Regions from separate parts of the Homo sapiens genome. Here all the other regions are reported to be linked to region 3. The links are microRNA targets in miRTarBase. Many come from high-throughput screens and were not tested one by one. Region 3 holds a microRNA gene; each other region holds the end of a gene's coding sequence.

The links. The annotated mature microRNA hsa-miR-4524b-5p reads AUAGCAGCAUAAGCCUGUCUC and lies in region 3 at 2,067-2,087, opposite strand. An mRNA with a match to its seed (bases 2 to 7 or 8) in the 3' UTR can be bound and repressed. Matches are read on the target gene's strand: a 7mer-m8 pairs with bases 2 to 8, a 7mer-A1 pairs with bases 2 to 7 and ends in A, and an 8mer does both.
Region 1: the mRNA of DLGAP3 is a reported target of hsa-miR-4524b-5p. The part of its 3' UTR that is shown has no 7-base or 8-base seed match.
Region 2: the mRNA of GPR27 is a reported target of hsa-miR-4524b-5p. Seed matches in the 3' UTR shown: 8mer at 2,973-2,980.

The regions. Positions count from the first base shown.
Region 1 is chr1:34,862,302-34,866,542 of GRCh38, reverse strand. DLGAP3 (DLG associated protein 3) reads left to right here. Exons shown (of 12, transcript NM_001080418.3): 12 at 242-1,107. The coding sequence ends at 460. Among named protein-coding and RNA genes, the nearest start is that of SMIM12, 4.7 kb to the right of the region's middle. RefSeq lists enhancers at 1-128, 179-278, 329-408 and a silencer at 569-618.
Region 2 is chr3:71,754,596-71,758,836 of GRCh38, reverse strand. GPR27 (G protein-coupled receptor 27) reads right to left here. Exons shown (of 1, transcript NM_018971.3): 1 at 2,341-4,241. The coding sequence ends at 3,660. It also overlaps a transcript of EIF4E3 not described here. Among named protein-coding and RNA genes, the nearest start is that of GPR27, 2.9 kb to the right of the region's middle.
Region 3 is chr17:69,097,416-69,101,656 of GRCh38, reverse strand. MIR4524B (microRNA 4524b) reads right to left here and starts at 2,115; the gene lies at 2,001-2,115. ABCA6 (ATP binding cassette subfamily A member 6) reads left to right here. Exons shown (of 39, transcript NM_080284.3): 22 at 723-860; 23 at 3,630-3,737. It overlaps MIR4524A (microRNA 4524a), which reads left to right and starts at 2,025; the gene lies at 2,025-2,093.

The DNA of each region.
Region 1 (4,241 bases), not on the chromosome of region 3:
GAGAACGGCGCCACCAGGGGGCGCTCGAACGCGCCGCGCTTTGGTGGAAAATGTGGGGATTTGACCTTGTCGGAACAGGAGCACCTGGGGCTTCAGGTCACGGGATCCGTGGCGGATTCTGAGCGCCATCGCGTTCGGAGCCACGCGGTCGTCAGCACTCTGGGCGCGGGGGTGCGGGGGCGGACACCTGGGTGTTGGGATGGTTCGGCGCCCCAGCTCAGCGACGCCCTCTGCCCCGCAGGAGGAGAAGAAGGTCCCTCCGCCGATACCAAAGAAGCCCCTGCGGGGCCGGGGCGTGCCGGTGAAGGAGCGCTCCCTGGACTCCGTGGACCGGCAGCGGCAGGAAGCGCGCAAGCGGCTCCTGGCGGCCAAGCGCGCCGCTTCCTTCCGCCACAGCTCGGCCACCGAGAGCGCCGACAGCATCGAGATCTACATCCCCGAGGCCCAGACCAGGCTGTGACCGGTCCGGCCCGCCCAGCCCGGCCCGGGCCCGCGGTTCTCCACCCGTACTGTACACCCAGCGTCGAGGTCACTGTGAACGCGGGCCGCCCCGTGCGCCCGCCCCACCGGCACCGGACGCCCCGGCCCCCGGGCCCGTCACACTCTCGTGGGTTTTTTACCTTCCTGATCCCACGCGAAGGCGCCCGGGCTGGGCAGGGGGCCGTGCCTCTCCGCCCTGCGCCCCTCACCTGGATCCCCTGCCCACCTGGTCCGACGCTTTGTCCCCACCTCCTCCCCATGGGCACCATCTCTGCCATTCTTTCCCCCACGGGCCAGGCCGGGCCGGGTCCCTCATCTGGGCTCTGCGTCCCCCCCTCCCCCACCCCGCGGGGCTGGGCTTCGTGGGGATCAAGCTTCGTGGCTTTTTATGAAGAATCCCGAACCCTGCCTAGGAGCCCGCCCCACCCTCCCAGGGGCTCCATCCTCAGCCCTCTGCCCACTGGGCCCAGGGACCACAGTGGCTGGACCAACCCAGGACCAGGGCGCCTGGGCCTCTCCCCTTTCCCAGCGGCTGGGGAGGGGAGATGGGGGCTTCCCCTCACCACACCTGTGGCTGTTCCCACATCCCCTTGAATATCCCAGGAAAAATAAAACGGCAGAACTGCACTCGAGCCAGCTGCTCTCTCCAGAAGAGGCCACCTCCGTCCCGTGTGTGGGAGGACGGGGGTGAAGGGAGAAGGGACCGGGAGCCCACTCTCTTGGTTTGGAGATAGCAGGGGTTGCCTGAGCTCCTTCCAGGGATGGGCCAGCTGGTGGAAAGGAGATTCGGCCCCCTGATGCCCACAGTAAGGGCCTGGACCCTCCTGGAGGGGCCCAGGTGGGGTGAAGAGGGGGAGGGTGCCAAGCTCTCCGTTCTTCCTATTTCGGTGTATCCCGTTCTGCCTCCCAGTCCGCAGGGTTCCCCCAGAGAGGGAAGTCCGGAGCTCGCCGGGCACGCAGCATGTGCTCAATAAACCGGGAGTGTGGTTATTGTTAGGTATTGACAAATAATTGGTTTCCCTTCCCCTAGGGGCACAATGTTCCTTCTGCTCCAGTCATTCCTGATCAGCAGCAGAAAATCTTCAGTCCTGCCGCATTTTCTGATGCCTCCTATGGGTGGCCACCTTGGTGGAGGCTGGGGTGGGGGAAGAGGAAGTACAAAGAACAGAGCTCTCCTGGGAAGCTAAATGGCAACCAGAACCTAGTATCGATGGCTTTATTGAGTGGTCAGTGTGGGTCAGGCAAGGGGTGAGTGCTTTACATGAATGTGGCTGGTCCTTACAATAGAAGAGAAAGCCAAAGCTCAGGGCAGGTTACAAGACCTGTCTGAGGTCACAGGACTAAATGTGGTGGACCCAGGTCTAATGCCAAATCATGAGCTTTTAGCTTTGCAGGCTTCTTAGACCAGAGAGGGCTGATGGCAGTCTCCACCCAGAAAGCCCCTTTCCACTCCTTGAGCAGTCCTTTGGGTTGGTGTGTCACCTCCAGGCAGGAGGAAAAGCCTTCAGGATTGGCTGCTTTTCTGGGCCACACTGGGTCAGCTAATTCTTCTCATTCATTTATCCAGCAGACATTTATCACTTTTGGGCGCCACAGGAATAGCCCTGAACAAGATGTAGTTTCTACCCTTAATGGAACTTATGGTCATATGGGAAAAACAGACAAATAAGCAAGCAGTTAAAATACAGGAGTAAGTGCCAGAAAGATGATTAGAGATTAGCTGCTGAAGGAGGGCCAGGGCTGGGAAGAATGTTCCAAGATCAGGGAACAGCTGTGCAAAGGCTTGGAAGAGGAAGAGACATTGGGAGCACAGAGACTTGATTATATCAGTGTTTGGGTCTCATTGAGGCAGGTGGCCTGGGTCTTGTGGGCTGTAGGGAGCCATAGAAGGGTTTTGAACAGAGGAGTGGCATGAACGTTTTATAGACTGGTTTGGTAGACAACTTTGGAAAAGCAAGAGATGGTCCACGTACACACATGAGCCTGGAAGGTGAGGAGAACTCTAATGTGATCTGAATTCCCAAAAGCAGTCCGTTTGGAGGTGATCCCATACAGACTCCTGGGCCTGGTCCAAGACTTAGTGAATAGACTCTGCCCTCGAATAAGGTTTTAACAAGTGCTTCACAAGATTCTGAGCAGCCAGCTTTGGGAAGACTTAAATTGGATGACTGTCCAAAGGTCTCCAGTAGAAGGGCTGGGTCAGTTTACCTCTCTGAGGTTGTTTTATCATCTCTAAAATTGGGGGCATGGGTGAGGTTTGAACTCAGAGCAATGCTGTAAAACAGATATTGTTTTCACCCCCATTTACAGATGAGGAAATGGGCTTGGAGAGGTTTAAACAGCTTACCTCAAACCATGAAGCCAGGAAGTGGCTGAGTCTGAGTTTAACCTTTACATTTATACAGCATTTTATGGGTCTATGACTTTATTCATAGAGTTTTCCATGTCTGGTGTGGATGAGTCTCCTTTGGTTCTTGTGGCCTAGGTAGTTATGCTGAGCCCCATAGATAGTGAAAGATTAGGTCCAGTCCTTTTGCTTGAGTTGCTTACAGTCTGGCCATGGCCAGCATATAAACAGAAAGTTATGGTGCAAAGGGAAACCTGTTCTCCCAGAGGGGCCAAGGGATTGAGAGGAGAGAGCCTCTAGCAACCAGGGTGTTTTAGTCCATTTTGTGCTGCTATAACAATACCACAGACTGGATAACTTATAATGAACAGGTATTTATTGGCTCACAGTTCTGGGTGCTGGGGAATTCAGTGTCAAGGGGCTGGCAACTTGTGAGGGCCTTCTTGCTGTGTCATCCCATGGCAGGTGAGAGGGCAAGAGAGGGCAAGAGGGAGTTGAACTTGCCCTTTTATAAGGGTGTCAATCCACCCATGAGAGTGCAGCCCTCATGGCCTAATAACCTCTTAAAGGTCCCACCTCTTAATACAATGACAAATTTCAGTGTAAGTTTTGGAGGGTACAACCATAGCACAGGCAGTCTGGGAAAGCCTTCTGCCTTGTGAGTTGGATCTTGCAGGATGAATTAGCATTTTGTAGTCAAGGAAGAGAAGGGAGAAATTCATTTCTGGCCAAGGGACCAACCTGGGCAAAGCCATGGAAGCACATGTGTGTTGGGAATGAAAGCATAGGCTGGAGAGGGTGACAGGTTATGGTGGCTGTGGAGGGCGTGGAGGAGATACGGCCAGAAGGGACCCATAGAGTTGGGGGTGGGAGGCTAAGATGGAAACCTCATAGTTTTATTTGAAAGATGAAACTACGGCCAAAAGAAAGGAAATGGACTGGATGGGGCAACAAGACAGCAGGGAGACCATTCAGGGAGCTGCTAAAGTGGTCCAGGTAAGAGATAATGATGTTGACTTTGAGAGACATTTAGGAGGCATAAGTGCAGTAAGCTGGATCTGGAGAATAATGTAAAGATGGGACGCCTTGAAGGTGTCACTCAGATTTCTGGCTTAATGAATGAGTAATGCCACGAATGGACATAGGACATTACAGAAGGAGCAATACAGTTGGGAAATACTTAACATGTCAATAACCATTTACTGAGCACTGAGAAGGTGCAAACTACTATGCCAAGCACTTTATACACATTTAGGTGATTTAATACTCATAGCAACCCTAGGAGTGGGTACTATTATTGTCTTTTTTTAAAAACAAAGAGTGTAAATAGCTTTTCTGAGATAAGCAGACAAGAGTCAGGATTTGAACCCATGGCTATCTGATTTCTCAGTCTATGCTCCTGAGCCCCTCAGCA
Region 2 (4,241 bases), not on the chromosome of region 3:
ATTATCACTGTTGTTACTGATTTGTTACATGCTTCCCCACTTTGCTTAAAATATTTCATTTAAAAAATGAATGTGTCACACCTGTAATCTCAGCACTTTGGGAGGCCAAGGCTGGTAAACCACTTGAGGCCAACAGTTAGAGACCAGCCTGGCCGACATAGCGAAACCCTGTCTCTGCTAAAAATACAAAAATTAGTTGGGCCTGGTGGCAGGCGCCTGTAATCCCAGCTACTTGGGAGGCTGAGCTGTAATCCCAGCTACTTGAACCCAAAGGTGGAGGTTGCAGTGAGCTGAGATCACGCCACTGCAATCCAAGCTGGGCAACAGAGCGAGACTCTGTCTCAAAAGAAAAAAAAAGAATATGTCAGGTGTACTGTACATTTAAACAGACATATAGACATATGGTCCTTCTACAAAACTATTTGACAAGATATCAAAAGTCCTAAAAATGCTTCTTTTGACCCAGCAATTCCATGCTAGAACATACAGACAAAGATCTATGTACGGGAAGCCTACATTGCTTCAAGTATAGTGACAACTGCGTGGGAGGGTGGGGAAGTTGTGCTAAATTAACTTCCCAAATAAATAAAATGAGCAATTTTAATGAAATCTTCCCTAAATACATGGTGCCTGTGCTGGTACAATAAGTAGAGTACTGTGGACACAACTAACCTTTTTTTTTTTTTTATAATTTTTGATTAATGTAATTAACTATCAAAGTACATGTTAATAGATTCACCAATCCTAAAAGCTGTTGGGGTGGCCCTTTGCACCTCCCCACTTTCTGCTACATAGCTTGTTTCTCTGGCTCTTTTGGTTCTCGTTTCCTTTAGTTGGCTGTTATTTCTTGCTACTCTCACCTGCACACTCACTAGAAATCTTGCCTTCCCCCATCTAATCAGAACTTTAAAACATAAAAATAAAAAACCCAGGTAGCCAAGTTTGAACGCATCATGTCTGAAGTAAATCATGTCTGAACGAAGTCCTGGAGGTCTGTCTCCAACCACCTGAGGAACCTGTTGAAATGCTTTTCCCCAGGACCCAACTCAACATGTCCTCATAAGACTCTGGATCACACAGACACTTAATTTGTATGAATGTTAGAATTTGAGAACCTCTGGCTTATGAATTCTCATATGACAAAATATCCCTTGAATTCAAGGCTATGTCAGGCCAACACGTCACCTCTGGTGCAGCTGAGCTGCTGCCCAAAGCTGGAGTGGCTCAGGAGTCAGCCATGATGGGCTGGTTCCTGTGCCATGCCAGGTGGGAAAATCACAGAGACTTGGTGATCTCTGTTTTGGGGGCTTTTTTGAGACAGGGTCTCGAGAGCTCTGTCATCCAGGCTACAGTGCCATGGCACAGTCATGGCTCACTGCAGCCTTGACCTCATGGGCTTAAGCCATCCTCTCACCTCAGCCTCCCCAGTAGCTGTGACCACAGGTGCACATTACCACACCCAGCTAATTTTTTGATTTTTTGTAGAGACATGGTCTCGCTATGTTGCTTAGGCTGGCCTCAAACTCCTGGTCTCAAGCAATTCTCCTGCCTCGGCCTCCCAAAGTTCTGGGGTTACAGGCATGAGCCATCGTAGACTGGTTCGACCTCTATTTGGAACTGAGATCACTTGGGCAGGTGGAGGGTTAGATGAGGAGAGAGGTACTTCTGGGCTCCTCTATCTTGGGGTTGGCTGAGGTTTCCGATCAGTGGCCCTTGGATGATTGAGGCCAACCTGGATTCATGATGTGGGGAGAAATAGGGTAACTGTCTCATATTTTCCAAGTGTGAGACTGTCTTCACAGACTGATTAACTTCCACAACAAAATAAAATCATGCAGCCTATTTACCAGAGATCAATTAAATTGGCCACACTCTTTTTATAACTTATTCCCATTGGACTGAACATTTAATAGTTTATATTATACTCAGCTAAATTTCAATATAATCTACCACCCCCACTTTTACCTAGTACTTTTATCAAAATGATCGCTTGTACTTGAGTTTGATATGTTTACTTAAAAGCTTTTTTATGTCATTTAACGAATAGTCATTGAAATGTTGTCATCCAAATAAAAAAACAGTTTTAAAGCCGTATATATGTCTACTGCTTCTTCCCTTTAAAGAAAAGTTTCGCAGATTTTATCTTGCATTTTAAATTAAGCCTCCACTTTTCTTGGATATGCTGATGGTCAAACTATGAAACCTGTAACTGAAGAACACGTGCTAAAAGGATCATAGAGCATGTTATCCTTACATAACATACTTAGAGGCATGTAACATACTTCGACGCATGTATTATTACAGCCTCAAACACCACCACCACCACAACAAAACAACCACTCCAGAATGAAAATACTGGTATATTTGTATAATGCAAAGAGAAATACAGATATAAATCCTCAAAACGGAAGGTACATTAATAAAAATGTAGCATTATAAGCCAAAAATATTATATAGTACTTGCAGAATTTAGTCTTTCAGTTTAACATTATAATGTCTAACAAAGAAATATTATTTAAATTATAGTTCTCATTATTAATTTAAAACAACCATCAGTAGAACAGCACAGCTTAACCTAGCAAACATTTTAAGGAAATGCTTTGTTTCCTAGAAGGAGGATATCATTATATTCCATTCATTTATACCATAAACAACAGAAGAACAATTTTCAAAGTGGAAATTAGTTTCATAAGACAGAATAAAACTGGGCTTCTCAAAGCACAAGCCATTTCCATAAAATTAATTTTTTATTGGCAAAAAATACTTAAAACAATTTTGATGTAGTACTCTGCTTCTCAGAGCCCTCCCAATCCTCGAACCACAATCTATACACACGAACACATGCAATACTGTATTTTTCTCCACATCATTACTAACCAAAACACTTTACTCTTTTAAAACTTACAACTTGACAGAAATGTTTCCATTCAAGATTGCTATAATACAGAGAGCAGTTGTCACTGACGTGGTTTTTAGCAGCAGAAAGTAAACCGGGAACCAAATCTTACTTGTTACTTACTGCTTTAAAAAAATGACTGCCTTGCTACTGATCTCCATCTCTGCTCTTTAAGTTCAATATCAACACTGAGACTTTCAAAGAACCAGCGCAGCACAAGGACCCTGCAGCCGGCAATTCAGAGGGCATTTCGGACAACTTCCCCCCACCCCCCACTTTCTCCTGCTTCCAACAGAAGATCCTCAAGAAATCTAACTTGTGAAGAAGTCCCCCTAGGTTCCTCTACTTCACTGCAAAATGTAATGCCACTTGAGGTTGTCAAAAATAGCTTCTGTAGAAAACTGGCCATGGTCTTTAGGAAACGTTGCATGAAGAAAATTAGTACAGCCTTTATAGAAAAAGAAAAAAAGGAACCACACATGGAATAAAAGACGTCAGTACCGCTACAAAAAGACTGCAGGGCCTATTGTCAGGAAGAAAGTCGAGTTAGGAGGACGAATGTGCGGAGCTGGAGTGGGCTGAGCATCCTACTCCTCACCCACCCCACCCCCAAAGGAGTCAGTACAATCCAAGTGTCTGTCCACTTCGAGTCATTTTGAAGGCAGCTTAGAAAATTAAACAGGGGCCAGAAGGAAAAGATACAACGTCACCGTCCGAGCCAAAGGGAAAGGCTGGGTTGGGGGTCTATGTGGCGGGGCCTCCCTCATAAACCAATGCCTTTCAGGTCGCAGGGATGGGTCGCCTGGGTGGTCCGGGGGCTCTGGCAGCAGGGGAACTGGGCCCTGAAGCAGTCCCTCAGCTCCCTGTTGAAGAGGAAGCACACGACGGGGTTGATGCCGGCCTGCGCGAAGGTCAGCCACACGGAGGCCGTCAGGTAGGCCTGGGGGACGGCGCCGGGCCGCACCAGGACCCGCAGGTAGCTGGCCACGACGTAGGGCCCCCAGAGGAGCAGGAAGAGCAGCGTGACGGCGTAGAACATCTTGCACAGCCTCTTCTCCGTCTTGAATTCTTCCAGCACGAGGAGGCGGCGCGCGCCGCGGCCCGGCCCTGCGGGCCGGATGCCCACAAGCGCGGGCGGCGTGGGCCCGCGGCCGAAGCCCGCCGTCCAGTTGGCGGCCGCCTGGCCGGTGGCGCCCGGGCCGTGGAAGGTCCAGTCGTGGCTGACGGCGGGCACCAGGCGCGCGGGCCGCATCTTGCGGCGGTCGTGGATGAAGAAGAGCAGGCGGAGGTAGACGAGGTGCGTGGCGCCCACCACCACGGCCAGCAGCAGCAGGAAGCCCAGCGC
Region 3 (4,241 bases):
TATCTCCTATCCAGAAGGCCAGCATTCCTTTGCTGCTGCTGCTGCTTTTTTTTTTTTTTTTGAGACAGAGTCTCGCTCTGTCACCCAGGCTGGAGTGCAGTGGTGTGATCGCAGCTCACTACAACCTCTGCCTTCTGAGTTTAAGTGATTCTTCTGCCTCAGCCTTCCAAGTAGCTGGGATTACAGATGTGTGCCACCACACCTGGCTAATTTTTGTATTTTTTAGTAAACATAGGGTTTTGCTATGTTGGCCAGGCTAGTCTCAAACTCCTAACCTCAAGTGATCTGCCCGCCTTGGCCTCCCAAAGTGCTAGAATTACAGGTGTGAGCCACCATGCCCAATCTTCCTTTGCTTCTTCATCATAAACTGACAGCATCTCCTTGTCAGGGAGACTTTTAAACTCTACTAAATGAAATTTCCCCATCAGCAAAATGGAGACAAAATTATCTAAAATTAGTAATACAAATAAAAATTCATATTGATTGTATGCTGACTCTGTGCTAGAGCTTAATGTACATGAATAGAGTGTCATTTAAGCCCTATAACAACCCATTTAGTATTTCCTTTTCATAGATGAGGAAGGTAAAGCTCAGAAAGTTTAGTTCACTTGAAGATGGACACACAACAAGCATGTGGCACTGTTAGGATCTTTTATACATAAACCTTGCCTTTGTTCTTTAAGAATTTAGCATTAACATTATTTATTTGTTTCTGTTTTAAGGATTATAGATTTTCAGTTGTGTGTAATACCAAGAGATTGCACTGTTTTCCAATTCTTATGAATATTATCAGCAATGGGCTACTTCAAATGTTTAATCACACACAACATATTCGAATTGAGTCAAGCCCATTTCCTCTTGTAAGTATTGGATTTACTGAGTCTAAACAATTAAGAATTGGACAAATAGCCTATGTTTTCTCTCTTTAGCTTTTAAATATCCATAAGTGATTGTTAAGCCTGAAAATTATTATTTTATCCTAATATTTTCAATGGGTTATAGCAAACAAAACAGGATTTTTTTTTCCTGCCAAGTTATCAGATAATTATCGTGAGGGAATACTTTTCAATATTTTGTCAGTCTTCTAGGCAATGTTTTGAAAAGTTGTACATACTTGATTGTGGAAGTGTATGAGAAAGAGAAACAGAAAAAAGAAAACACTGACTTGGAAATCAGGAGAACTTGTAACCCTGGTTACATATAAATCTATTATAATTAGTTAGTGGACCCTCCATTGACTAAATGTGTAGTAGACAGACTAATATGAAGGAGAATCTGCCAGTTCTGGGGCTATCTGTTGATTTATTTATTCACCTACTCATAGTTGCTCTATGTTGTGAGGGAGCCTAATACACACAGGCTGCATTGGATTCTGTGTCAGTTGGCTATAGTCTGGCTTCAGACAGTTTGGACACTAGAAAGCAGTGGTGGGAGACAGAAGAGCAGAGGACCCCCTACATTGGGCTCCAGTCACATCACCTCCTTCTGCTGTTCCTGAAGCCCAGAAGCAACAATAGCTTGCTTCTCACTTCACCATCTTTGTGGGATGCTCATCACCCACCTAACCATGTCATAAGGAATTGCACTCTAAGAACTTAACGTAGTCATGGTTTTCTGGTTAGACCCTGCCTGATACCAACAGGGGTGTCTCAAAGCTGACTCCAACTGTTTCACACCAGAAGTCTGAAACATCAAGAAGCAGGATTAGAAATGAAGCCATCCAAAGGGAAGTCCATTTTGTGACAAAAGTGTGAAGCTCAGTTTTGGCTTCACTGAATCAGTGGTGCTGGGAGTATATGCAAGCACAGGTTTTCTGTAAGCCATGGGAACAATGGGGATGAAATATACAGTACTTGAGATGTTCGTGACAGACACATACCTCCGTGAGTTGAGTATGACCGACTGATCACGTAAACAGGTCTGCTGCACAGGATGACTCGAGGGAAGGGGTGTCTGAAGGGAATTCTCCAGAAAGTGGAACCAGAGGAGTAGCAGAAAGAGACAGTGATTACCCTTCCTCTTTGGAACGATAGCAGCATGAACCTGTCTCACTGCAGAATTATTTTGAGACAGGCTTATGCTGCTATCCTTCAAAAGAACACATCCACCCAGCTACTGAGGTTTCCATCTCTGGGTTTGCTCAGAAAGACATGCTGCTCAGGCCTGAATTATGTGTTCATCAAAGGTCCTAACTTCTGAATTATTAGCTTCCTAATGCCATTGTGTTTGCTCAGGATCAAAATGGACTGAAGCCCATAGCTACTCTATTAGAAACCTGTTCCCCACTCCCACTTCCCCATGGCACACACCTTTCCTCCCTCATTCCTATGATGAAAAACAGAATTTATAGACATAGCCCTCAAAGTCTTAAATAAAGTTAAATAATTGTGGAATTATTTTGAGACAGGCTCATGCTGTTATCCTGTAATTATATCCATGAGGTGGTCCTAGATGCTGCTAGAGTGTCCACTTGGCCTAGCCTCAAGTGGATGCTGATTTGGGGGTAGTGATTTAAAGTTCCTTTCCCTGAAGTTAAGACAAGCAGCAACAAGTTTTCTTCTTGGTTCTGTGCTTCAGAACACATCCACCCAGCTACTGAGGTTTCCATCTCTGGGTTTGCTCAGAAAGACGTGCTACTCAGGCCTGAATTATATGTTCATCAGAGGTCCTAACTTCTGAATTATTGTTTTTTTGTTGTGGTAATAATACATGATATAAAATTGACCATTTTAGCTGTTTGCAAGTGTACAGTTGAGTAGTATTAAGTATATTCACATTGTTGTGAAATGCATCTCCAGAACTTTGCCGTCTTGCGGAATTGAAACTCGATGCCAATTAGCTTTCCCCCTCCCCCATCCCCTGGAAATAACCATCCTATTATGTTTCTATGAATATTACTAGTTTAGAAACCTTATATAAGTGGAATATTTGTCTTTTTGTAACTGGTTTATTTCACTTAGCATATTTTCCAGGTTCGTCTATGTTGTAGCATGTGACAGGATTTCCTTCTTTTTTTTTTTTTTTTTTTTTTGAGACCGAGTTTTGTTCTTGTTGCTCAGGCTGCAGTGCAATGGGGCGATCTCTGCTCACTGCAACCTCTGCCTCCCAGATTCAAGCGATTCTCCTGCCTCAGCCTCCCAAGTTGCTGGGATTACAGACATTTACCACCACACCTGGCTGATTTTGTATTTTTAGTAGAGATGGGGTTTCACCATGTTGGTCAGGCTGGTTCAGACTCCTGACCTCAAGTGATCCTTTTTAAGGTTGAATAGTATCCATTGTTTGTATATACATACACATTTTGTTAATCCATTAATTTGGACTTTTGGGTTGCTTCCACTTGTGAGTATTGTTGGTATGAATATGAATGTGAGGGTATCTCTTCGAGAGCTTGCTTTCAATTCTTTTGGAAATATCCCCAGAAGTAGGTCCTAAATGACTTTTGACTTCTCTTTGTTCTTTGAGTTGAAGATCAGAGTCACTTTCCCTCCCACCTTCGTGCCTAGATGGTAATGAGCTACACCTTTACTTTGATTTTTCAACATTTCAAAAAGTGCATTTTTGTGGCTATAATTATTTGTTTCATTTAACAAATATTCACTAGTTTAAGCTACCCTTTATATTTTCAGAGCCACATAGGACTCTGGACTGGGTTGCCGGATGGTTCCTTTTTCTTATTTTTGGTTCTATGTAGCATTTCTCCTTATATCACCATGGGCAGCATCAGTGATTACAAGGTAAGAAAAAGCAGGGAAAAGAAGAAATTTCAGGAATTTCAATATCTGTATTTTGAATGCTATGTGTTCAAAATGTTTTCTTCTGACAAAAACATTTGAATGTATGTTTAATTTAGATATTGTAGCTAAACCTTATTCTTGGCAAGTCAGATAATTTACTTCTAAAAACTCAAAATGCTTTTTATTCCAAAGTCACCTGAAAAGTACAGTGATTTTTCAGAGACTCCAATTAGTCTAAACCTTCAAAGGGAAATATTATAAATCTTTTGACCACATTATTTCCCAGCCACAAGAAGGAAATCATTGATGTTGAAATCAAAGGCCAAATTTAAGACTTGAATTCCTTTTCCACTCTGGAAATTGCAATTTTATGTTATATTTGTATTCGATTATGCCCATTATTCAGACAAAGCAGTTAAATCTATCAACGTTCACCATCCTGAGCCAGAAACTCTCCAAGATGTTTAGGTAAAGGTAAATGTATTATGTCCTCCAGGTCACAAA